7 linked regions of the Homo sapiens genome follow. Changing the gene in region 1 together with any one later gene gives a genetic interaction. Each region holds a gene or a part of one and is shown in the gene's direction. Other genes may lie near its edges.

Evidence for each region.
Region 2: changes in POLE2 (region 1) and SSB together harm fitness more than expected from each alone (negative genetic interaction), as found in Homo sapiens cells (one large-scale study listed by BioGRID).
Region 3: changes in POLE2 (region 1) and UBA2 together harm fitness more than expected from each alone (negative genetic interaction), as found in Homo sapiens cells (one large-scale study listed by BioGRID).
Region 4: changes in POLE2 (region 1) and HUS1 together harm fitness more than expected from each alone (negative genetic interaction), as found in Homo sapiens cells (one large-scale study listed by BioGRID).
Region 5: changes in POLE2 (region 1) and FBXW7 together harm fitness more than expected from each alone (negative genetic interaction), as found in Homo sapiens cells (one large-scale study listed by BioGRID).
Region 6: changes in POLE2 (region 1) and LEO1 together harm fitness more than expected from each alone (negative genetic interaction), as found in Homo sapiens cells (one large-scale study listed by BioGRID).
Region 7: changes in POLE2 (region 1) and TIMELESS together harm fitness more than expected from each alone (negative genetic interaction), as found in Homo sapiens cells (one large-scale study listed by BioGRID).

The regions. Positions count from the first base shown.
Region 1 is NC_000014.9:49,653,715-49,657,214, reverse strand, and holds part of POLE2 (DNA polymerase epsilon subunit 2), read left to right. Parts: intron 1-1,371; coding exon 1,372-1,544; intron 1,545-2,120; coding exon 2,121-2,210; intron 2,211-2,376; coding exon 2,377-2,431; intron 2,432-3,000; coding exon 3,001-3,060; intron 3,061-3,147; coding exon 3,148-3,225; intron 3,226-3,500. UniProt on the Homo sapiens protein: Accessory component of the DNA polymerase epsilon complex. Participates in DNA repair and in chromosomal DNA replication.
Region 2 is NC_000002.12:169,808,871-169,812,564, forward strand, and holds the end of SSB (lupus La protein), read left to right. Parts: coding exon 1-32; intron 33-1,412; coding exon 1,413-1,553; intron 1,554-1,987; coding exon 1,988-2,174; intron 2,175-2,312; coding exon 2,313-2,453; intron 2,454-2,797; coding exon 2,798-2,886; 3' UTR 2,887-2,949; coding exon of another isoform or gene 2,950-2,988; 3' UTR 2,989-3,194; downstream 3,195-3,694. Other genes in the region: rRNA N(6)-adenosine-methyltransferase METTL5, read right to left, coding at 2,950-2,988, 3,587-3,636. UniProt on the Homo sapiens protein: Binds to the 3' poly(U) terminus of nascent RNA polymerase III transcripts, protecting them from exonuclease digestion and facilitating their folding and maturation.
Region 3 is NC_000019.10:34,438,381-34,441,880, forward strand, and holds part of UBA2 (SUMO-activating enzyme subunit 2), read left to right. Parts: intron 1-264; coding exon 265-386; intron 387-3,500. UniProt on the Homo sapiens protein: The heterodimer acts as an E1 ligase for SUMO1, SUMO2, SUMO3, and probably SUMO4. It mediates ATP-dependent activation of SUMO proteins followed by formation of a thioester bond between a SUMO protein and a conserved active site cysteine residue on UBA2/SAE2.
Region 4 is NC_000007.14:47,973,116-47,976,615, reverse strand, and holds part of HUS1 (checkpoint protein HUS1), read left to right. Parts: intron 1-928; coding exon 929-1,003; intron 1,004-3,500. UniProt on the Homo sapiens protein: Component of the 9-1-1 cell-cycle checkpoint response complex that plays a major role in DNA repair. The 9-1-1 complex is recruited to DNA lesion upon damage by the RAD17-replication factor C (RFC) clamp loader complex.
Region 5 is NC_000004.12:152,529,593-152,533,092, reverse strand, and holds part of FBXW7 (F-box/WD repeat-containing protein 7), read left to right. Parts: intron 1-2,242; exon of another isoform or gene 2,243-3,500. UniProt on the Homo sapiens protein: Substrate recognition component of a SCF (SKP1-CUL1-F-box protein) E3 ubiquitin-protein ligase complex which mediates the ubiquitination and subsequent proteasomal degradation of target proteins.
Region 6 is NC_000015.10:51,951,279-51,954,778, reverse strand, and holds part of LEO1 (RNA polymerase-associated protein LEO1), read left to right. Parts: intron 1-203; coding exon 204-298; intron 299-1,515; coding exon 1,516-1,650; intron 1,651-2,799; coding exon 2,800-2,935; intron 2,936-3,500. UniProt on the Homo sapiens protein: Component of the PAF1 complex (PAF1C) which has multiple functions during transcription by RNA polymerase II and is implicated in regulation of development and maintenance of embryonic stem cell pluripotency.
Region 7 is NC_000012.12:56,439,427-56,442,926, reverse strand, and holds part of TIMELESS (protein timeless homolog), read left to right. Parts: intron 1-3,500. UniProt on the Homo sapiens protein: Plays an important role in the control of DNA replication, maintenance of replication fork stability, maintenance of genome stability throughout normal DNA replication, DNA repair and in the regulation of the circadian clock.

The DNA.
Region 1 (3,500 bases):
AATATGTTTTGAGCACATACTGTATTGCCACTAGGTGGGGAGACAGACATGAAACAATCGCCCAATTACAATTGGCTGACTACAATTTTTTTTTTTTTTTTTGAGGCAAAATCTTGCTTTGTTGCCCAAGCTGGAGTGCAGTGGCATGATCTCGGCTTACTACAACCTCCATCTCCTAGGTTCAAGCGATTCTCCTGCCTCAGCCTCCCGAGTAGCTGGAATTATAGGTGCCTGCTGCCATGCCCGGCTAATTTTCACATTTTTAATAGAGATGGGGTGGATTTCACCATGTTGGTCAGGCTGGTTTTGAACTCCTGACCTCAAGCAATCCCCCCACCTCGGCCTCCCAAAGTGCTGGGATTATAGGTGTGAGCCACCCTGGCCTGATTACAAATTTGATAAGATCTGCAAAGGAGAAGTACAGGTTCCTATGAGAGTGTATAATGGGAAAATCTAACCTCTTTTGGGATCCTCAGAGGAGGCCTATGGGGTATTTGCATTTAAGCTGGGAACTGCAGGATGTCAGTGTAGAGTGGGCAAGAGTGGTGGAGGCTGGGAGTGTGTAGATTACCCACTTTCCTACTGACCCTTGCTTGGTGAGCATTGAATAAAACCAAGCTTTGAAGGAACCGTTGAATAATTTTTTCACAGTTCTTGGATATAGGCTAGTCTTTGTATATATCTTTAATTCCTTAGGATTAGCCATTCCAGAAGTAGAATTACTTGGGCAGATGGTTAGCACATATTTTGAGGTTTCTATGAGATATTGTTCAAATGGTGTACTCATTTCTTCTACTTTCAGTGACATAGGAAATTATTATTTTAATGTTTGCTTTAGTCAGTTTTTTTTTTTTTTTTTTGAGACAAGAGTCTCACTGTCGCCCAGGTTGGAGTGCAGTGGCGCAATCTCGGCTCACTGCAGGCTCCGCCCCCCGGGGTTCACGCCATTCTCCTGTCTCATCCTCCAGAGTAGCTGGGACTACAGGCGCCCGCCACGTCGCCCGGCTAATTTTTTGTATTGTTAGTAGAGATGGGGTTTCACTGTGTTAGCCAGGATGGTCTCGATCTCCTGACCTCGTGATCCGCCCGCCTCGGCCTCCCAAAGTACTGGGATTACAGGCGTGAGCCACCGTGCCCGGCCGTTTAGTCAGTTTTAAGACACAGATATAGCCTATTATTTTATTTACTGCTTCCATATTGCTTATCTTGTTTTAGAATATTTAGATAACCTTTGTACTTTTAAAGTGTTACAAAGAGTACCTTTTTACACTGGAAAATAACTTCATTAGATACAAAGAAGCTAAATGTATACAACTATTAGAAAAATATCTCTAGTGGTATATAGAAGATAATTATGTTATAATTATCTAGGGCATACTATGGAAATATTAATTTTTTTGGAGGTCCTTCTAATACATCTGTGAAGACTTCTGCAAAACTAAAACAGCTAGAAGAGGAGAATAAAGATGCTATGTTTGTGTTTTTATCTGATGTTTGGTTGGACCAGGTGGAAGTATTGGAAAAACTTCGCATAATGTTTGCTGGTAGGTCTTATTTTTTTTCTTCTTTCTTGAACTCTTTTAAGGGTTCATGTTTTAAAACTTTTTGAGTATTCTATTTATCTTTTTGAGTATTCTATTTAAAAAAAAACAGAGTTAGCAATGAGATAATTTAAATTAGATTTCATTTTAAAGACTTAAATTTTTACATTAAGAAAAAAACCTGTGTGTGTGTGTGTGTGTGTGTGTGTGTGTGTTTATAGTCATGATAAGTAAGAATTAGTCCTGAAGTTCAAGACCAGCTGGACAACATAGTGAGACCCCATCTCTAAACAAAAACAAAAACAAACTGGGTTTAAGTGCAAGCCTATTACCCTGGGCAGGTTACTTAACCTAAGTCTCAGATTTTATGGATGTTCTGAGGAGTAATTAAGCCAATGCAGGCCTGGCCTATAGTAAGTGCTCAATGAATGGCTACTGTTATTAGTATTATTTTAATAAGTTATTAAAATGTTATTTTAATTAAAATAAATTTTTATTATTAGAAAGTCATGGTTAAAGGGTTTTTAACTTGATTTGTAGACTAGAAAAGTATTGTTCATTTACTCTTTTATTGTTTAGGTTATTCACCAGCACCTCCAACCTGCTTTATTCTGTGTGGTAATTTTTCATCTGCACCATATGGAAAAAATCAAGTTCAAGCTTTGAAAGGTATTAACGATCTATTTAATAAGAAGTGTTTCTATAGTCATATAAACTAAAGTAATAAGAAATTATCCATAATATTTTAATTAAGAATATACAGGATTGTATCTAATCAAATATAATTTTATGGCATTATATGCAAATTTAATTCAATACCTTTTTAAAATTTTAGATTCCCTAAAAACTTTGGCAGATATAATATGTGAATACCCAGATATTCACCAAAGGTAATGATCTCTAGCACTATATATTTTTTCACCGTTTTACTTAAAAAAAAAACAAAAAATGAATTTTGTTATATCAGCAATTATTACAAAACTAAGGAAGAAAGATAAAGTTGAGAAAATTAAAAGAACTAAGAGATAAAGTTATCCTCACATTGTACTAGAGGTTTATAATGAAAAGTATTGAAAGGGATAGAGGTAATTTCAGCCATACTTGGAATTTCTTCGTGGCATTACTCTTAAGAGTCTAGAGCTTCACTCTCCGATATGATAGTCACTGGCCACATGTCTCTTTAAATCTAAGTTTAATTAAATTTAAATATAAAATTCAGTCCATCAGCTATGCTAGCCACAATTCAAGTGTTCAATTGGGCAGTGCAGATATAGAACTTTTCTATCATGACATTACTAGACAGTGTTGGTCTGGAGACTTAATAGTTCATTTATTATAATGCATGAAATTTAAATGTTTTTTAATTTTAAAGAGAAAACAAAGGGAATAACTTGCTTTTAAGCTATTGGATAGTGTTACAATAATATTTTTAAATGAATTGTGTTGAATTTTGCTACAGTAGTCGTTTTGTGTTTGTACCTGGTCCAGAGGATCCTGGATTTGGTTCCATCTTACCAAGGTAAGTTTTGTTCAGATTTTTGCAACAGTGTAGAAAATTTTGTAAAACTTAAAAAGATAAACTATATCACATAAATTGTTTTTATAGGCCACCACTTGCTGAAAGCATCACTAATGAATTCAGACAAAGGGTACCATTTTCAGTTTTTACTACTAATCCTTGCAGGTAAGAATTAGTATTTTGTGTTATACATTTTTCCTTTCATTTAAAAATTAGCCAGGTGTGGTGGCTCATGTCTGTAATCTCAGCACTTTGGGAGGCCGAGGCAGGCAGGTTGCTTGGAGTTCCGAGACCAGCTTTGGCAACACAGTGAAACCCATCTCTACAAAAAGTACAAAAATTAGCTGGGCTTGGTGGCACGCGCCTGTGGTTCTATGAAGAGGCTGAGATGGGAGGATCACTTGAGCCTGGTAGGTGGAGAGGTTGCTGTGAGCTGAGAA
Region 2 (3,694 bases), on another chromosome or scaffold:
CAAAACAAAAGTTAGAAGAAGATGCTGAAATGGTAAGTATATATTACTGCTATCTAGTACATCTGTAATTCGAAGTTAAATGAATAGCTTTTAAGTCTGAGGACTTTTTCAAGAAAATACGTAAGCAAAGCTATCTATAGTTGTTATTGCATTAAGTAATACATCAGGTATTATATTGAGGGAAAAGAGAAAACTAAGGATAGGAAATATGTTCTAAAATATGGAAAAGGCCGGGTGCAGTGGCCCACGCCTGTAATCCCAGCACTTTGGAAGGCCGAGGCGGGCAGATCAGTTGAGGCACGGAGTTCGAGACCAGCCTGGCCAATATGGTGAAACCCCATCTTGACTAAAAATACAAAAATTAGCCAGGCGTGGTGGTGCATGCCTGTAATCCCAGCTATGTGGGAGGCTGAGGCAGGAGAATCACTTGAACCCAGGAGGCGGAGGTTGCAGTGAACCAAGATCATGCCACTGCAGTCCAGCCTGGGTGACAGAGTGAGACCCTGTTTAAAAATAAAAAATATAATAAAACACAGGAAAATATATTTTGAAATATTCAGAAAAAGTTCATTTATGCCTAGAACTTATTTTTATGAGAAAATGTCCTATAACTTCTAAAGATTCTAATCATAGGTTAATACTAACATGACTTTTATTTTTGACTTAATAAGATACTGATGTGTATTTCCATTTAGAAAGTTACAGGTAAAAATTTTTATTTGGGGAAAATAATGACTATAAAATTTTTTTTTTTCTTTTTTTGAGACCGAGTCTCACTGTTGCCCAGGCTGGAGTGCAGTGGCGCGATCTCGGCTCACTGCAAGCTCCACCTCCCAGATTCATGCCATTCTTCTGCCTCAGCCTCCCGAGTAGCTGGGACTACAGGCGCCTGCCACCACGTCCGGCTAATTTTTTGTATTTTTTTTTAGCAGAGACGGGGTTTCACCATGTTAGCCAGGATGCTCTCGATCTCTTGACCTGGTGATCCGCCTGCCTCGGCCTCCCAAAGTGCTGGGATTACAGGTGTCAGCCACTGCGCCCGGCCTAAAAATTTTTTAAAGTATGATAAATACTGCCTAGAATTATTTTCCAAGATAGTTTAATAGCCAGATTTATGTAGTTTATAACTAATTAAATACCAGTTGTATAAGAGATCAAATAATATTGAAAGCCATTTTGGAATAAAGGATGACAAAGGAAAACACCAACACTATGAAACTACTTTATTTATTTATTATTATTATTATTTTTTGAGATGGAGTTTCGCTCTTGCTGCCCCGGCGGAAGAAACTACTTTAAAATAGCATTTTGGTTTCTAGTCTTTTTCTTGTATAGCTATAAGGTGGTGTGAGTCATTTCTGGTCTGTTGTTGCTTTTAAGAAACTTTTTGATCACTTTGTATATTTTTATAGAAATCTCTAGAAGAAAAGATTGGATGCTTGCTGAAATTTTCGGGTGATTTAGATGATCAGACCTGTAGAGAAGATTTACACATACTTTTCTCAAATCATGGTGAAATAAAATGGATAGACTTCGTCAGAGGAGCAAAAGAGGTTTGGATACATCCCTATCCTTTTTAGCAATCAGTTTGAAAATCTGTAGAAACTTAGACAAAATTAGTAGAAAGTAATTTTAAAAATTGTGTTTATTAAATTAGTTTCTACTTGATCATTTGTTATTGCCACTAGATGTGATGTCTGATATTTTCTGAATTATACTAAATTAGTTTCTACTTGATCATTTACTTTGTTGTTATTGTCACTATATGTGATGTCTGATAGTTTCTGAATTATACTATGAATAACTGTTCATACTGATGATTGCAGTTTTACTTCTGTAGCATTCCTTTTCTACTGTTCAGTAAAATTCATTCAAACTGGTAAAGACATGGAAGGTTTGCAGGGTAGAAAAAATTACTTTGGACAAAGAAATTAATTGTGGGACTAAAAACCAAGGGTATGGCTTTTGTTTTCTGTCTCTGGTATAGGGGATAATTCTATTTAAAGAAAAAGCCAAGGAAGCATTGGGTAAAGCCAAAGATGCAAATAATGGTAACCTACAATTAAGGAACAAAGAAGTGACTTGGGAAGTACTAGAAGGAGAGGTGGAAAAAGAAGCACTGAAGAAAATAATAGAAGACCAACAAGAATCCCTAAACAAATGGAAGTCAAAAGGTCATTTATTCTGATTTTTCTTTAACAGTTTGGTTGTTGAACCCATTTACTTGAGCAAAAACTTTAATCAGTGTTCAAAAACATTGACAAGAGACTTAAAAAAAGTTCTTTACAGAGTGCTCAATTGTGTCTCTACAGGTCGTAGATTTAAAGGAAAAGGAAAGGGTAATAAAGCTGCCCAGCCTGGGTCTGGTAAAGGAAAAGTACAGTTTCAGGGCAAGAAAACGAAATTTGCTAGTGATGATGAACATGATGAACATGATGAAAATGGTGCAACTGGTAAGTTTTTTTTAAGTCCTTTGGTAGTTTCATGAGAAAATTTCTACTTCCATAAATAAATGATTTGCCAGAGAGAATAGGGATTTGGCTTTTCAACTCCTGGATAAGTGCCATTCTTGGATTATTAACGATTTACCTCGGTTATGCTGTTGTATAAGTCAGGGACAGGATATTTGGAAGATGAATCTAGAGGTCAGGTCTGTACTAAGAGAAAAGCCTTTTCTCATTGGTGCAAGGAAGTTGTTGCATCTTTTTCAACAGTATCATTATTAGTAATTGTGCTCAGTATTAAACTAGAGCAGTACTTACGTTGAATTTAACAAAAATTAATTGTTACGTTATAGGACCTGTGAAAAGAGCAAGAGAAGAAACAGACAAAGAAGAACCTGCATCCAAACAACAGAAAACAGAAAATGGTGCTGGAGACCAGTAGTTTAGTAAACCAATTTTTTATTCATTTTAAATAGGTTTTAAACGACTTTTGTTTGCGGGGCTTTTAAAAGGAAAACCGAATTAGGTCCACTTCAATGTCCACCTGTGAGAAAGGAAAAATTTTTTTGTTGTTTAACTTGTCTTTTTGTTATGCAAATGAGATTTCTTTGAATGTATTGTTCTGTTTGTGTTATTTCAGATGATTCAAATATCAAAAGGAAGATTCTTCCATTAAATTGCCTTTGTAATATGAGAATGTATTAGTACAAACTAACTAATAAAATATATACTATATGAAAAGAGCAAAAACAGTTTTTGATTTTTTTTTTCTTTTTGTACCCAAAGCATTTAGGAAAGAACTAGAATATTAGCTATTGACGATGGGCCTTTCCCACAGGCCATTTATGGTGTCTCCTAGGCTGGCTTTGTATATTTACACAGGAAAGTTGGTAACACTAGAAATAATTACTTGTCACAAAGCTTTCCTTTTTTTTTCTTTTTCGAGACTGAGTCTCACTCTTATCGCGCAGGCTGGAGTTCAGTGGGGCAATCTCAGCTCACTGCAACCTCTGCCTCCTGAGTTCAAGCGATTCTCTTGCCTCAGCCTCCCGAGTAGCTGGGATTACAGGCATGAACCACCACATCCGGCCCAGAAAGCTTTTCAATACCGAATGTAGACCAGCCAAAATCAAGAGACTTACTGATTTCTTTTTGTGAAACTTGTATGATGCTGGCAGGTCATATCGAAGTTCTGTAAAACAAAAGCCACCTAAGGATAAAATTGTATTTCCAAGCGTTTACCACCCTTG
Region 3 (3,500 bases), on another chromosome or scaffold:
AGTAATTTTTATTTGGGCTTGTAAGTCATGTTCACTGAACCAGGAGTCGGCGTCCTGGCACAGCCTTAGCTATGACTGGTAGATTCAGTTAGCTTTTGTGTTAGTTTATCATAAAGTAAGCATTTTGGAGTCACTAATATTTTAAAATTTCCTTGACAACGTAAAACGTAGTTGGAATATAGATGAATGAAGTGTTTATATTACCTTATAATGTTGAGAAACTGCCATCATGGAGTAAATTTTTCTCATATCCTGACTTCATAGGGTGTGACCGAGTGTTATGAGTGTCATCCTAAGCCGACCCAGAGAACCTTTCCTGGCTGTACAATTCGTAACACACCTTCAGAACCTATACATTGCATCGTTTGGGCAAAGTACTTGTTCAAGTAAGAGTGTATATTTCTTGGCATGCTTTTCGGTACTGATGATGGAAAATGGAGTCATTTTTATTTAATTACCTTGAAGAGATTGAACTCAGGATGTTTAAATATGGTGAAGGGATGCTTTAGTAGCTTTCTTGCAGTATTTCTTAGGTTAAATGTAGCTGGCCGGGTGCGGTGGCTCACACCTGTAATCCCGGCACTTTGGGAAACTGAGGTGGTCGGATCACCTGAGCGCAGGAGTTTGAGACCAGCGTGGCCAGCATGGTGAAACACATCTCTACTAAAAATACAAAAATTAGTTGGCCGTGATGGCGAGTGCCTGTAATCCCAGCTACTCGGGAGGCTGAGGCAAGAGAATTGCTTGAACCCAGGAGGTGGAGGTTGGAGTGAGCCGAGATCGCGCCACTGCACTCCAGCTTGGCAACAGAGTGAGAATTTGTCTCAAAAAAAAAAAAAAAAAATGTGGCCATGACTGTTCAGGAAACTTAGTCTTATATTGGAGACAGCCATGTAACTAAGCGATAAAAATCTTTATATTTGGAAATGTGAACATTTACTTACAAATAACCCATTGGTTATAAAAGAAATCACAATGGAAGTTAAAAATACTCTGTACTGATAATGATGAAAATGCTATACCAGAATGTATTGAATGTGGTGGTTGGCAAAAAGTTACAGATTTACATACATGAAGAAAGGCTGAACATTAATTACTAAATCTTTACTAAGAATCCAATTTAAGTTAGAAAATGAACCACAGAATACACTTTAAGAAATGAGAATGGTGTGGGCATGGTGGCTCATGCCTCTAATCCCAGCACTGTGGGAGGGTGAGATGGGAGGATCCCTTGAGCCCAGGAGTTTGAGACCAGCCTGGGAAACATGGCAAAACCGTGTCTCTACAAAAAATAGAAAAATGAGCCAGGTGTACCTGTACTCCCAGCTACTTGGGAGGCCGAGGTAGGAGGATCAGTTGAGCCTGGGAGGTTGAGGCTGCAGTGAACCGAGATAGTGCCACTGCACTCCAGCCTGGGTGATAGTGAGATCCTGTCTTAAAATGAAGAAAGAAAGAAAAAAAGAATGAGAAGGAAGGATATTAATTGAAGTAAGAGCACATTTGATTACAAAATAGAAGAGGAGTAAGTGAGAACTAAACGGGGAATACAGATAGCAGAGATTAAATAGGCTATAAGAAAAAAAAGGGATGATAATAAGACCATGGTAGTACATAAAAAATTTAAATGATCTGGGTAAATACATTTTTAAAAACTTACTAAGTGCCCAGTGCGGTGGCTCAGGCCTGCAATCCCAGCACTTTGGGAGGCTGAGGTGGGTGGGTCACTTGAGGCCAGGAGTTTGAGAACAGCCTGGCCAACATGGCGAAACCCCGTCTCTACTATAAATACAAAAATTAACCAGGCGTGGTGGTGGGCATCTGTAGTCCCAGCTACTTGGGAGACTGAGCCATGAGAATCACTTGAACCCAGTGGGTGGAGATTGGGCCACTGCACTCCAGCCTGGGGGACAGCATGAGATGATGTTTCAAAAAAAAAAAAAAAATGAAAGGAAAATAGAATGCCTGAATTTAGCAGTATACCTTAGAGCAATGTAAGTAGTTTAAATTATTCTAAATAATGCACCGAACCTATGTTATTTTTACAGATTCATTTCACAAAACTTGCAAGGAGTATATTGTAATATTAGCTAAACTCTCCCTGAGAAATTTTTAAAAGGGAATACTACTTAGCTTGTGTTATTAGGCTAGCAATGTCTTTGATAGCAAAACCTGTCAAGGCCATTATGGCATAAGAAACAATTGCTAGTCAGTCTCACACCTAAATAATAGATGCAAAAATCCTATGTAAAATATTAGCATATCCTGGGAATGGGCGCAGTGTATCATGCCTGTAATCTCAGCACTTGGAAGCTGAAGCGGGTGGATCACCTGAGGTCAGGAGTTCAAGACCAACTTGGCCAATATGGCGAAATCCTGTCTCTATTAAAAATACAAAATTAGCCGGACATGGTGGTGGGCGCCTATAATCCCAGCTACTTGGGAGGCTGAGGCAGGAGAATTGCTTGAACCCGGGAGGTGGAGGCTGCAGTGAGCCGAGATCGCTCTGCTGCGCTCCAGCCTGGGCAACAGAGCAAGACTCCATCTCAAAAAAAAAAAAAAAAAAATTACCATATGGATCTAGAATCATATAAAATAAAAAGTGTGTCTTGACCACGTGTCTATTCAGGAATACAAGCATGGTTTAAACTAGAAAATCTGTAAATGTCATTCACTCATTAGGAAATTAAAGATAAACTATATAGTTTTCATAGATACAGAGAAAGCATTTGGTAAAATTTAGCAAATGGCCTTTCATGATGAAAGTTTCTACTAAAACAGAATAAAAACTTACTAGGCCGGGCGAGGTGGCTCACGCCTGTAATCCCAGCACTTTGGGAGGCTGAGGCGAGCGGATCACGAGGTCAGGAGATCGAGACCATCCTGGCTAACACGGTGAAACCCCATCTCTACTACAAATAAAAAAAATTAGCCGGATGTGGTGGTGGGTGCCTGTAGTCCCAGCTGCTCAGGAGGCTGAGGCAGGAGAATGGCGTGAACCCGGGAGGCGGAGGTTGCAGTGAGCTGAGATTGCACCACTGCACTCCAGCCTGGGCGACAGAGCGATACTCCGTCTCAAAAAAATAAAAAATAAATAAATAGATAAAATTAAAAATAAAAAAACTTCTTACTAAAATGAGAATGTTCTCAACCCGATAAAGGGTATTTTGTAGAAACCTTCAGCAAACATTGTCTTTAATTTTTGCACTCAGAAAAGTATACATAACAGTGTCAACTTGATAAATGTTCACAAAAACTACACTTGGAAGCTTTATTTATTTGGCAAACATTTTTTTTCTTTGGGAGGCTGAGGTGGGTGAATCACTTGAGGCCAGGAGTTTGAGAACTGCCTGGGCAACATGGCGAAACCCTGTCTCTACTAAAAATACAAAAATTAGTGGGGTGTGGTGGCACACGCCTGTAGTCCCACCTACTCGGGAGGCTGAGCCATGAGAGCCGCTTGAACCTGGGAGGCGGAGGTTGAAGTGAATGGAGATCATGCT
Region 4 (3,500 bases), on another chromosome or scaffold:
AACATTAGATTATTTGCCTTTTGTTATTTACATAAAGCATCTTAAAAATGTTGCATATGATAGAAATGTCATGCCATCCTATATGTAGAAAATGTCTCGCTCAGTAACATCACTTAAAACACAAATGATACTTTTGGAGGACAATTAGTATTTATTAGTATTCTTGGCCTTAGACACCAATTTGGGTTTCACAGGACTTGATCTTTTCCTCAGCCGGTCAGGAGCGATATCTGGATGTGCACGAAAGCCAAGAAGAGAAGAATTTCATGGCTTAGGGCTAACATGGGGTAACGGTCATGCCGATGGTTAACCCTAGAGCTCCTGAAAGTAAAGATGATGCCAAAGGGCCCATTTCCTCTTGCTCACAATTTGTTTAAGAAGAAAGTACAGAAATATGCTGGGTAAAATAATTACTTGACTTTTACTAGATGGCACCTACACTGATTTTGAAAAAGCCTGTGTTTTATAGAGCACTCTTGGTAACAGTCTCAGATGTGATGCAGTGACTGTCTGCCATGTTTTTGTACAGAGCATGGAAAAGGCCCTTGAATCATAGGTGTAAATGTCCCTTAGAGGAGGGCCTCCTGCTGATTGCCTGAGTTATATTCCCCCTGGACCAATATAGGGGCATCTCAGCTGAAGTACCCTATTCCTTCTTGAGCCAAAAGAATGCCCACAGGGACATGGTTGCTGAGGTAACCAGAGGCAGGCATTCCATTCTTTAATTTTGCTTGAGCATCCTTGAGTTAGTGAAATAGAATTGGTTTTCTTTTTATATTTTTAAAAGAACTTTATTCAGAAAATTGTAAAATAGTATCCCATAGTTTTTGAGCATGCATGTGTTCTAGAGTTAGTTATGGGGCCCTTGTCATTACTAGAGTATATTAATATTTTTAATACTTGTGCTTTTTTCTCATTGGTTTTGTAGGTTAGTATTTATTTACCAGTCTTGAAGACTATGAAGAGTGTTGTGGAAAAAATGAAAAACATCAGCAATCACCTTGTAAGTCACAACTTCTTTAGAAAAGAACTCTGAAGTATTTGGTGGGACGGCGTGGGTTCTCCAGCTCACCCTGCAGCAGTCCATGCAGGTGGGCACCTCCTAACCGAGTTCCCACTTATGAGGACCTGGCCTGGTGCTGAGAACCTGCAGATTGCTAGTTGGATTTAGAAACCTATTCCAATACTTTTCAACTCTAATTCTTTGAGGAAAGCTTTTATATTTGCCTTTAATCTGCCTGTTTTTCCTCTTATATTTTGTATGAAACATTGTATCTTTCTTTTTTTTTTTTTTTTTTGAGACAGAGTCTCACTCTGTCGCCCAGGCTGGAGTGCAATGGCGCCATCTCACCTCACTGTAAGCTCCGCCTCCCGGGTTCATGCCATTCTCCCACCTCAGCCTCCCGAGTAGCTGGGACTACAGGCGCCTGCCACCATGCCTGGCTAATTTTTTGTTTCGTATTTTTAGTACAGACGGGGTTTCACCGTGTTAGCCAGGATGGTCTCGATCTCCTGACCTCGTGGTCCGCCCGCCTAGGCCTCCCAAAGTACTGGGATTACAGGCGTGAGCCACCGCGCCCGGCTGGAACATTGTATCTTTTACCTGCTAACGTGCCCGTATTTTTCTGTGAGTCACTGATATGACTGACAGTGAGTTTGGAGTTTCCTGTCTGCGTGCCAAGTGTCTTTCAGTGAGCCAGGGACAAAGATATGCCACACCATAGCAGCCTTTATTCCAAGCACACCTCACACCAAGCTAGGGGGCACTTTTATATTTCTGTTTATTTTCTGTTTATTTTGTGGAAGTCTCCTATGGCCACATGGCTCGAAATGTTACAGTGTGTGACAGTGGTGGGAAATGTGTAGGTTATCCTCATTCATACCTGGGGTTATTGTGAATTCTTCCTTCACTCACTGCCCCTCCCTCCTCCCCCTGCTCCCTCCTATCCTGCTCCAAAAAACACCCTTGGTTATGTCCCTGAATCTTCTAAAAACCACTGTCCACCTGATGAAGCATAAACTTTTGATCTTGACAGTGTACCAGGCCACCTTTATAGCCACATCTCTGTTGTATTGCCACACCCTCCCTGCAGAACGAGGCTGGGTTCTGGTATTCCCCCACAATGCCTCTTCTTTTTTGTTCAGTTTCTTTGCCATTTGACACATGGCTTCTTCTCTCCATCTCCCTGGAAGGCACTTAGCCATTCTCATGCTTCATCACAGACCTTTCCCCACCACCCCTCTGGAAGCTCCTCCATGGAGCTGAGCTGTCCAGTGTACATGGTAAATCACCTGCTAAGATCTCTGAAGGTCTCGTGAACCACCAGCTTCTTGATAAAGGAAACCCCATCTTAATCATCTTTGTGTCCCAGCTGCCCAGTGTGGGATTGCCACTCAGTAGGCAGCAATAAGTGTTGCATGGATCTGGAACAAAATTTAGCTTCAAGAGGTCTTTGAAATCACAAAAGTATTTTGAAGCCTAGAAAATGTACATTTGACTGTTTTTTTCTAGAGTTCTGCACACTAAGAGCAATGCTGTCATTGGACCTGGGTAACTCAAAGCTTTTCCTTCATAACTTAATCTATAAAATCTGTTTTCCATGAAGCAGTGTGCACTGTGCTGACGTTGGTGTCACCTGTGACTGCAGTGATGCTGATCCAGTTGTCAGGCTGGCTTCATCTGGGGATACCCTGGGGACTTCCAGAGAAATTCAGAGAGGCCCAGGAGAGAAAAGACAGGGCTGTTAATTGAAGGATGGCATTTGTTTGTTCTTTCTGTTCAATGAAAATGAGTCAGCAAGGTAGAGAGGTAGAAGGGTAGCTTAGAATCATCAGAGGTGTTTTGTTTTCTCTTTTTTGGAGTTTAAAAAAACATAGAAATATTGTGGAGAGGCTACTACGATCTGGAATTACTAAATGGAAAGTTATCAAGTTACTGTAGCAAAGTACATAATGAGGTCTTCCTGGGTATCCAGAATTCTGTATCTGAATATTACAGGCAGTAGAATTAAGGAAAATGGGTAGACTTAACACACTAAAAATGCCCACCTTCCCATTAGAGATGCCCAGTTACTTCCTTTCATTAAATGCGAGGTGTGACTGATGGGGTGGGTTGTATGTGACTCATGCAGGAGCAGAAAAAGAAGCAAGAACTGGAGGGAATTGACATCATGTTCTAAGACATTGCTTCTAAGTTCTACCATGCGTGTGAATCCCCTGGAATCTGGTTAAAGTGCAGGTTCTGATTTGGGAGGTCTGAGCTGGAGCCTGAGGCTCTGTTTCTGACCAGCTCCTGGGAGATGTCGATGCTGCCTGTCTTCAGACCACATCATGTAGCAGTACTTTGTGATGTGTGCCTGTATTACTCCGTTTTCACGCTGCTAAAAAGATATTACCTGAGACCAGGTAATTTATAAACAAAAGAGGTTTAATTGACTCACAGTCCTGTATAGCTGAGGAGGCCTCAGGAAACTTACAGTCATGACAGAAGGCAAAGGGGA
Region 5 (3,500 bases), on another chromosome or scaffold:
TCAGCCTCCCAAATAGCTGGGACTACAGGCATGTGCTACCACGCCTGGCTAATTTTTTTTGTATTTTTAGTAGAGATGGGGTTTCACCATGTGGGTCAGGCTGGTCTAGAACTCCTGACCTCAAATGATCTGCCCACCTCGGCCTCCCAAAGTGCTGGGATTACAGGCGTTGAGACACCGCGTCCTGCCAAAAAATTATGGTAATGTTTTATTGCACGTTTGGGTAGAAATGACAAAGTTTTTGGGGTCCCTGCCTTTGAGATGCTTTTACTTGTAGGTGGTGGAGACAATCAAACACAAATTGCACAAAGCTATAGGAGAGGGGGGATAGACCAATATTTATCTAAGACCGCACTGGATGTTAGATATTGTCAACTTATAGATGTGAATATATTTTTACATTTTTCACTAGGGAAATGTTGCTTTTGGACGTGTACATATAGAACTAATTGAAGTATTGAAGCCAAATCTGGGAAGGTTTCTTTTAGGAAGAAAAGAGCAAGTGGAGACACAATATTTAAGACTTTTGGAATTGAAAGGCATAAGGGACAGATAAAATTACGAAGCTGGTTTGAAGGGAATACAGATAGAGGTTGTTGAGTAGTGTTAGGGTCAGTTGTGTTTGTGTAGACACATGATTACAGTTCAAAGAAGCAACTGAGAAGAGTGTTCCTGAGAGTAATTTCAGATGACTGGGGAGAAATTACATTTTAGGTAAAAGCTGTATGCCTGGATTAGGATTTTGTTTTTCTAGGGAACCAACATTTTTATTATATCGTGGCTATCCAGGGCTATACAGAAGGAGGAGTGAAAAAGAAGATGCTTAGTGTGTTGAAAGTGGCTTCTTACAAAAAAGAGTTTAGAAATGGGACAGTAGACTTTGCTTTGGATGTGAAATTTTAGGGCAACAATTGGATACTGGTGCAGTTTCAAAACAGCAAAATAGTTTAGCAGGTAATATACTGAAAATGTAAAGTTGGAATTATTTTCAAAGTATTTAGGTTTCCCAGAGTACTGATGGAAAGTGAAGAGCTGAAAAGTGGGTATTTTTAGTTAGGGGGAAAATCTGAATGAATGAGACACTACCTAAAATAGATGTTTTAGAAGTGGATAAGAGTTGAAGTTAAAAAGGAATGAGCAGGCTTTAAACATGGCCACCAGTTTAGTCCCAGGGTATATTATTCTGTATTTTTGAAACAAGCTAAAATTTTTTTTTTTTTTTAAATAGGGTATATAGGTCCCTTGAGATTAAGTTCAGAAGAGTATACTTAATAATAATTTCATTGTTAAGGAATTTATAAATAGAAGGACAGATTTGTTTCCTCAAATTCATGTTTTAAAGTTCACTGTGCATTATTATCCTACGTTTGGTCTTGATATGACGAAGTGAGGCCAAAAATAGCTGACAGAGAAGGCTGCTTCCCTTGTTCACAGTTGGTGTGTGTCTTTGTGTCCCATACAATGGAGGGGATATCCCTGTGTAGGCACAGTAGTGCTGAACATGCTTTTTTTTTTTTTTTCCTTTTAAACTTTTTATTAAAAAAAAGCAACTTGGCATTTAAAAAAATGTAGACATTTTTGCGGCTTGCATTTAGTATTGACTTTAACAGGATTAAGGATTGTGAGGAAGGAAATATATATTCACACTTTTTTGTGTTCCTTAGTTGGAATTCTGCACCTTCCTAGTAGCTTCTCTGACTTCTTAACAGTGATTATTCAAATGGCAGAAACTCTGGGGAAGAGATGTTTCAACAAGGAGATAGGTCTAAGGTGATTCTAGGGTGAAAATATAGGGATTGGATTATATGCCATATGGAGGCCTTCTCTTGTCATCCTCCACTTTCCACAACATTTTTTGTGCAGTCGAAGCCATGTTCAGATGAATTTTAGAAGGCAGCCACTTATAGTTAATGTTATTTACTAGTGAGGACAGTGGGAAGAGTGGTAACTTCATGTACTTTGCCTTGGCAACTTTTGGATTGATAGGGAATTAGAGAGCCTTGAGGGTATATGTTTGTGTGTGTGTGTGTGTTTTAGCACCCACCAGATGACCCCAAAGGCCATGCATAGGCTCATTTCATTGTACTTTGGAGATGGTTCTTGGAGAAGTCTTCTGGTGCTTCTGACATCTCATTGTGTAGAGAAAGAGTTGGCAAACTATTTTTGTAAAGGGCCAGTTAGTAAATATTTTAGGTTTTACAGGCCACATGATCTGTCACAACTTTCAATTCTGTTCTTATAGTGTGAAAGCAGCTGTAGACAACAAGGAAGTGAATGAATGTTGCCGTGCTCCAATTGGCCCATAGGCCGAAGTTTTTGGACTCCTGGTATAGACAACTGCCAAATCCACCAACAAACAGTATGAGCTTTATTACACTACAAAGCCAGGACTGGCTATTTTTGGTGGTCTTTGTTTTCTAGATGAGATGTTTTTCTCTGAGTTCATTTAAAATGATTCTGCATAAAGCACATACTCTACTGTACAAAATACTTTTGCCTTCATGGTGATGAAAACTATGGATTGAGGGTCGGGGTGATACCATCTTTAAAGGGATGCAGCTAAAAAGTAGGGACTACCTGCATTTCTTATCTAAAGATAACCACAGTTGGCATTTAGTGATATACTGGCTTTGTATCATGGCCAAAAGTATCTGTAAAGAAGCTTGTGGGCATACTTTTGAAACCTTCTGAAAATAAATGTAAAGCATTTACTTCGTGTGTAAAATTAGAAGTGTCTATGGTTGGTTTGAATAATATGAGTCAAATTATAAGAGCATTAAAGTTTGATACTGCTATCTATTAAAGTCTTAATCTCTTGCAGTGGCTAATTCAGTGTGTAGAATTACACATCGCAATTTTTGTTTTGTTAATTTCAAGTACTAGTGTATATTAACAAATCACTTAAATCATTTAAATGTGTACTTTAAAAAGCTTTGATGTATATACATATATATACGTATATATATATATGTACACGTATATATATACACGTGTGTGTGTGTGTGTGTGTGTGTGTGTGTGTATTTTTTTTTTTTTTGTGACGGGGTCTCATTCTGTCACCCAGGCTGGAGTGCTGTGGTGTGATCTCAGCTCACTGCAACCTCCACCTCCTGGGCTCAAGTCATCCTCCTACCTCAGCCTCTCGAGTGGCTGGGATCACAGGCATGCGCCACCATGCCCGACTAATTTTTTTGTATTTTTGATAGAGATGGGTAACAACTTTTGGATTGATAGGGAATTAGAGAGCCTCGAGGGTATATGTGTGTGTGTTTTAGCACCCACCAGGTAACCCCAAAGGCCATGCATCATGTTGCCCAGGCTGGTCTCTTAACTCCTGAGCTCAGGTAATCCATCTACCTCGACCTCCCTCAGTGCTGGGATTGCAGGCGTGAGCCACCACACCTGGCCAGCATTGCTATATTTTTAAGAGTGAATCTTTCTCACATGTGTTGTTCAGAAAGTGTAATTCACTTTGTGCAATTTTACATTACAGTTAATAT
Region 6 (3,500 bases), on another chromosome or scaffold:
TTAAGCATATTTTTTTCCCTGCTTTTAATTTATCCAACCTCTCTAGGTGATTAAAGAGGGTTTCAGTGTTGTTCATTCTCCTGCCACACATACATCTGTCACCTCTGTATGCTTATTCTGTGATTATGTGCCTCTTGAGGAAAAACAAGATGCATAGAGTCATTTAAACTATAATTTTCTAAAGTACTTGTGTTGTGAAACAGGTAGAAAATACTATAAGATGGAGGATACGCCGAGATGAAGAAGGAAATGAAATTAAAGAAAGCAATGCTCGGATAGTCAAGTGGTCAGATGGAAGGTGAGCACAAAACGCCTGAAGGGTATTGACATACCCAGAACGGGTCAGAGGGATCAAGTTTTGAAATACTTTTTAGTTTTAAATTTATTATTAGTTTTAGAAATGGGGTCTCACTCTGTTGCCCATGTTGGAGTGTAATGACATGATAACAGCTCAGTGGAGCCTCAGACTCCTAGTCCTAAGTGATCCTCCCATCTCCCAAGTAGCTGGGACTACTTGGTGTGCACCACCCTGCATGGATTATTAAAAAAAAAAAAGAGCCAGGCACGGTGGCTCACGCCTGTAATCCCAGCACTTTGGGAGGCCGAGGTGGGTGGATCACGAGGTCAGGAGTTCAAGACCAGCCTGGCCAAGATGGTGAAACCCCATCTTTACTAAAAATTAGCTGGGTGTGATGGCGGACGCCTGTAATCCCAGCTACTCAGGAGGCTGAGGCAGAGAATTCCTTGAACCCAGGAGGCGGAGGTTGCAGTAAGCCGAGATCGCGCCACTGCACTCCAGCCTGGGCAACAGAACTAGATGCCGTCTCAAAAAAAAAAAAAAGAAAAAATTTCATAGACACAGTTCTCCATATGTTGCTTAGGCTGGTCTTGAACTCCTGGGCTCAAGCGATCCTCCCATCTCCCAAGTGCTGGGATTACAGGCGTCAACCACCGTGCCCAGCCACAAATTGACATTTTAAAAAAATTGCCCTTCACTGGGAATGTAGTAGAGCCTGGTAAACATCCCAGCATGTGTTAGTTCTTTGTAGTCCATCAGTTTTTCTCATTATGACTTCTTATTTTCGTTCCTTCCAAATTCTGTGTAAAAAGAGAGAGCAGCAGTTGAATCACCTGTTTTGTTTTGTTTTTTTTTTTCCTTGAGATGGAGTCTTGTCCTGTCGCCCAGGCTGGAGTGCAGTGGCACGATCTTGGCTCACTGCAACCTCCACTTCCCGGGTTCAAGCAGTTATCCTGTCTCAGCCTCCCGAAGGCTGGGACTACAGGGGTGTGCCTCCATGCCTAGCTGATTTTTGTATTTTTACCAGAGATGGGGTTTCACCATGTTGACCAGCCTTGTCTCAAACTCCTGACCTCGTGATCCACCTGCCTTGGTGTCCCAAAGTGCTGGGATTACACATGTGGGCCACTGTGCCCAGCCTGAATCACCTTTAAGTGAAGTAAGATGGTAGAGTGAAAGCTTTATGACTTTAATAGATGAAATGTTTCTCTTTCCAGCATGTCCCTGCATTTAGGCAATGAAGTGTTTGATGTGTACAAAGCCCCACTGCAGGGCGACCACAATCATCTTTTTATAAGACAAGGTACTGGTCTACAGGGACAAGCAGTCTTTAAAACGAAACTCACCTTCAGGTAACTGTTATTATTATTATGTATTATTTCTTATGGTAAAAGCAGTGAAACATAGATGTTTCTGTAATGCCTGCCACCTGATTGATGTAACCCCACGGTATGATTCAGCAAGAACCAAGATCTTGTGCATAGTTCTGAAGGTTCAAAGGTTATTTTGTCAAATACACTAAAAGTTGCTGTTTCTTAGGGAACCAGGTCATGCTAACCAGACTTACAAGAGACTGTTAGGTAAACCAGAATGTCAATGTATTTAATTCCAGTGGTTATTATAACTGCCAAGAGGCCTAAAATACGTGTGTCTGCTAGCCAGTGTGTCCTTTGTTTTTAGTAAAATTGACCTGGGAGACTAATAACTAGAGGTTGTTGTTGTGCATGCAATCGAAGGAAAGCCAGCAAGTTGGTCAGTGTGAGACGGGCCATCTCAGTGCCGTAGGCCCCGGCATCTAATACCACTGCAGAGGTGTGTCCCCCAAGAGGACAGGAATACTCAGCTGGTGAGGGCACTTTCCTTCTCTAGACTGAGTATGTGCTGCACTGAGATGTTCATGCTTCTCTTTCTTGATTATAAGCAGACCATCCTCTTTGGGTAATGCTTATCTTTAGAGGGGGCACAATAATGTTGGTTATGATTTAGCTTTTTGAAATTATAAAGGTTAACATACAGGCTTTGGAATCAGTTAGACTCATATTTGAATTCCATTTCTACTTGTGTGACCTTGTGCCACTTTCTTAACCTCTTTTTGCCTCAGTTTCCTAAATCTATAAAATAGGATAATTATATTAATATTAATATATTAATATTAATTAAAAGTAATGGCAAAAACCGCAATTACTTTTGCACCAACCTGTAGTATCTAATTAATGTTGCTTGAGCGTATCCATTTATTGCTTCTAGAAGGTGATCATGCCATACAATCTTTTTTACTCCAACCTTCTGTTTTTCATTTGTGGAATAAGAATGTCTCAGTGAGCCACAGAATGAAGAAAACTCACAATCTTCCACCTTGGTATATTCAGTCGAGTGTCTCTGCCTATTTTTTCAGGTGACTAGGAAATGGTCACTGGGCTCTTACTTCTGTGACGTGGGTATCACTGGCTCACAAATGTATTTGGTAAACAGTGATATGCTCTTCGTTTATTTCCTGGCAGACCTCACTCTACGGACAGTGCCACACATAGAAAGATGACTCTGTCACTTGCAGATAGGTGTTCAAAGACACAGAAGATTAGAATCTTGCCAATGGCTGGTCGTGATCCTGAATGCCAACGCACAGAAATGATTAAGGTATGTTTGCTAAGCCTAAGCGTTATCCTGGGATTCTTTGGTATATTAGGCAAGTATTTCCCAAAATGCTTGTTCGTCATCTCTTATTGGCCTACCTTTTCCTCTTCCAACTGACATGAATAGGGAGCTGGATTCATTTCCTCAGCATTTGCCAAACAATTGGTGACGTGGCAATGATAGTAAAACAGAAACAGGGCTCAGGTTCTCTCTTCACCAGGCCCTGAGAGTTCAGCAACAAACCGGTGATTGAAATATCTGAATTTTCATGTATAAGTTCAAAGATCATTAAGTCATCTATGTGTGGTTTAGAATCCATGTCAGAAGTCAGTGGAGATACTAGAGAGTAGTGTAAAATAGAGAATAGACCAGGAGTTTGAATGAGAGAGTGCCTAAAGTAGACTCTGGTAAAGAATAAGACGAGCTTATGAGTTTTTAAGGTCAATTTGTAACATTCTACCTGGTATATTTTCAAATTTGACCCAGCTGTTAATTAGGCACAAGTTTATTTGGGGCATTGTACCTAATCGATAGAGCATGTGCTCATATTGGCTATTGGCCTTTCCTG
Region 7 (3,500 bases), on another chromosome or scaffold:
ATTGGGGAAGTGATAAATGTCCATGAAATCTTCATAATTTATGTTCACAGATTGCAGTAAAGACAGGCGTAATAAATTATGAAAGTATTAATTTGGGGAACTAATAAATGTCCATGAAATCTTCACAATTTATGTTCTTCTGCTGTGGCTTCAGCCGGTCTCTCCATTCGGGGTCCCTGACTTCCCGCAACATCATCTATCTTATATCACTATAGAGGGTCGTTTGGTTTTCTCCAGCACATCTGGGCCTAGATTTGAATTGAAGTCTAGGAAGCAGATGGTTGCATTGATCTGAGGTTATGTATGGTCTTTTGCAGGGTGAGTGCACTGAAAGGAAAAGAGATAGAGGCCACACGGGAAAATGGCCAAACTGATGTATATAGTGATACAGTAGTAGGATATGTGTGACCCTGGTTTGATCATTTTGTTTTCTAGCTCAGAAATCTTCAGTGGCTCCCTGGCTTAGGTTCTAAATCTTTGAACTGATGGACAAAGATGAGGTTTTTCCCATAAAGCTGGTTCCAGCTGCTTTTCCATTGCTTTCCTGTTGGACTCATCTATTCATAATGGCTCCCTCTTTGGTTTTGCACTGGCAGTTCTCTGCTTAAATGCCCATCCTATTCCCAGCTGCCTTAATCCTATGCAGCTTTCAAAGGCCCAGTTCTAATCATGCTTCCTCAGACAAAACCTCCTTGACCACTTTAACCTGAAAAGAGTACTAGTTTTTTAGTTTTTTTCAGTATCACGTATTTAGAGCTTGTACTGCCTTATCTTTTACATTGTTTGTTCTATATTTGTGGATTTTATTTCTGCAACTACATTTCTTTTTTTTTTTTTTTTTTTGAGACGGAGTCTCACTCTGTCGCCCAGGCTGGAGTGCAGTGGCACGATCTCAACTCACTGTAACCTCCACCTCCCTGGTTCAAGTGATTCTCCTGCCTCAGCCTCCCGAGGAGCTGGGATTACAGGCACCCGCCACCACACCTGACTAATTTTTTGTTAGTTTTAGTAGAGACGGGGTTTCATCATGTTGGCCAGACTAGTCATGAACTCCTGACTTTGTGATCCACCCGCCTTGGCTTCCCAAAGTGCTGGGATTACAGGCGTGAGCCACCGCGCCTGGCCTCTGCATCTACATTTCTTAAATTTCTTTAGCGCTACCATTGCACCTGCACGCTATCTTTTGCCAGGAAGGTTCTCCCTAAGCATTTAGTAACTGACTATAGAGTCTGACAGATGGAGAGGAAATTAATATTTGGGGCGGGGGAGGGGTTCTGTTTGTTTTGTTTATTTGTCTTTTGAGACAGGGTCTCACTCTGTTACCCAGGCTGGAGTGCAGTGGCACAATTTCAGCTCGTTGCAACTTCAACCTCCTGGGCTCAAGTGATCCTCCTGCCTTAGCCTCCTGGGTAGCTGGGACTAAAGGTGTACATCAGCATGCCCGGCTGATTTTTGTGTTTTATTTTTTGTGGAGACTGGGCTTCGCTATGTTGCCCAGGCTGGTCTCAAACTCCTGGACTCAAGTGATCCTCCCACCTCAACCTCCCAAAGTATTAGTATTACAGGCGTGAGCCACCATGTCCAGCCAGGGATTCTTACTTTGTGCTCAGCACTGGGTAGAGTGCTTAATATCACTGCTTCTCAAACTGTCTTGGTAAAGGACCAGGTAGATTTTTCCCTCAAGCTGTTGCAGATCAGTAGTGTTCTAAAAGCACTTCTGTAAAATAAAATTACTAGAAAAATAACATTTAAAAAGACATAGAGAATACAGGCTTTTTATTATTATCATCATTAGATTCAACAAACATTGGCTGGGTGCAGTGGCTCATGCCCGTAATCCCAGCACTTTGGGAGGCCGAGGTGGGTGGATCACTTGAGGCCAGGAGTTCAGCAGCCTAGGCAACATGGCGAAACCCCATCTCAACTACAAAACACAAAAAAATTAGCCTGGCATGGTGGCACAGGCCTGTAATCCCAGCTACTTGGGAGGCTGAGGCACGATAATAGTTTGAACCCGGGAGGCAGAGGTTACAGTGAGCCAAGATCACGCCACTGCATTCCAGCCTGGGTGACAGAGGGAGACCCTGTCTCAAAACAAAACTGTAAACTGCCTGTCAAATTGCCCTAAGATGTTCTAAGTGCTAATGCTTTCTTTCTGTACTTACCTTGATGCAGACTGCTAATAGTTTGTGGATTGGCAGTGGTCTGAAGACCAAGGTTTGAGTAGCATTGCTTTACATGATCTCATTTACACTTCCCTAATATCTTGTGAGGGTGGGTATTATTATTATTTCCTCAGTATACTGATAAGGAAAGAGATTTAGTTAAGCCACCTGCTCAAGTTCACCAGTTTAGTACCAGACAGAATTGGAATTCAAGTGCTAGATGCCATTTTGTTCATACTACTGGGTCTCAAAGAGGATCCTTGGAGCAGAGTTGGTTTGGGGCAGGTAGAGTGTTTTGTTTCGTCTTCAAAAAGTAAGTTTATTTGGTCGGGCGCAGTGGCTCATGCCTGGTATCCCAGCACTTTGGGAGGCCCAGGTGGGCAGATCATGAGGTCAGGAGTTTGAGACCAGCCTGGCCAATATGGTGAAACCCCATCTCTACTAAAAATACAAAAATTAGCTGGGCATGGTGGCGCGTGCCTGTAGTCCCAGCTACTTGGGAAGCTGAGGCAGAAGAGTTGCTTGAATCCAGGAGGTGGCGGTTGCAGTGAGCTGAGATCGTGCCACTGCACTCCAGCCTGGGCGACAGAGCAAGACTCTGTCTCAAAAAAAAAAAAAAAAAAAAAAAGGTTAATTTGAATTGCAAATACATTTAATATTTTATCTGTTGTTTTCTTTTGGTTCTTGCATTTTAATGCCTCCAAGTATTGATTTCAGATGCATATTGCTTCATCTGAACTGCTTGATACTTAGTTGAGTAGGAAAAGTAACTAACATCCCTTTTAAATGTCCAGTTCCATTGGCTCTGTGGTGTTTGACAAAGTTCTCACCTGGTCTATGATGAAATGTGAAAATAAAGTCAATGTAATGAATTTTTTCATGAAGTCATATTTATTAAATTTGAAGGACAGTATTTTATCCTGAGATTTTTGTCTGTAGTTTTTTTGGTGTTAAAATGGTAGAAACAGAATGCGTATAGTAATTGTGTGGAGTGTTGTTTATAACGGCTGTTTGAGATATAATTCATATACTGTAAAATTCACCCTTTTAAAGTGTACAATTCAGGCTAGGTGTGGTGGTTCACACCTGTAATCTCAGCACTTTGGGAGGCCAAGGCAGGAGGATTGCTTGAGGCCAGTCAGGAGTTTGAGACCAGTGTGGGCAACATAGGGAGGTACCAGCTCTACACAAATTTAAAAATTAGCCAGATGTGGTATTGAATGCCTGTGGTCCCAGCTGCTTGGGAGGCTGAGGTGGGAGGATTGCTTGGGCCAAGGAGTTGAGGCTATAGCGAGTCATGATTGATCTGTACTCCAACCTGGGCTGGTCAACAGA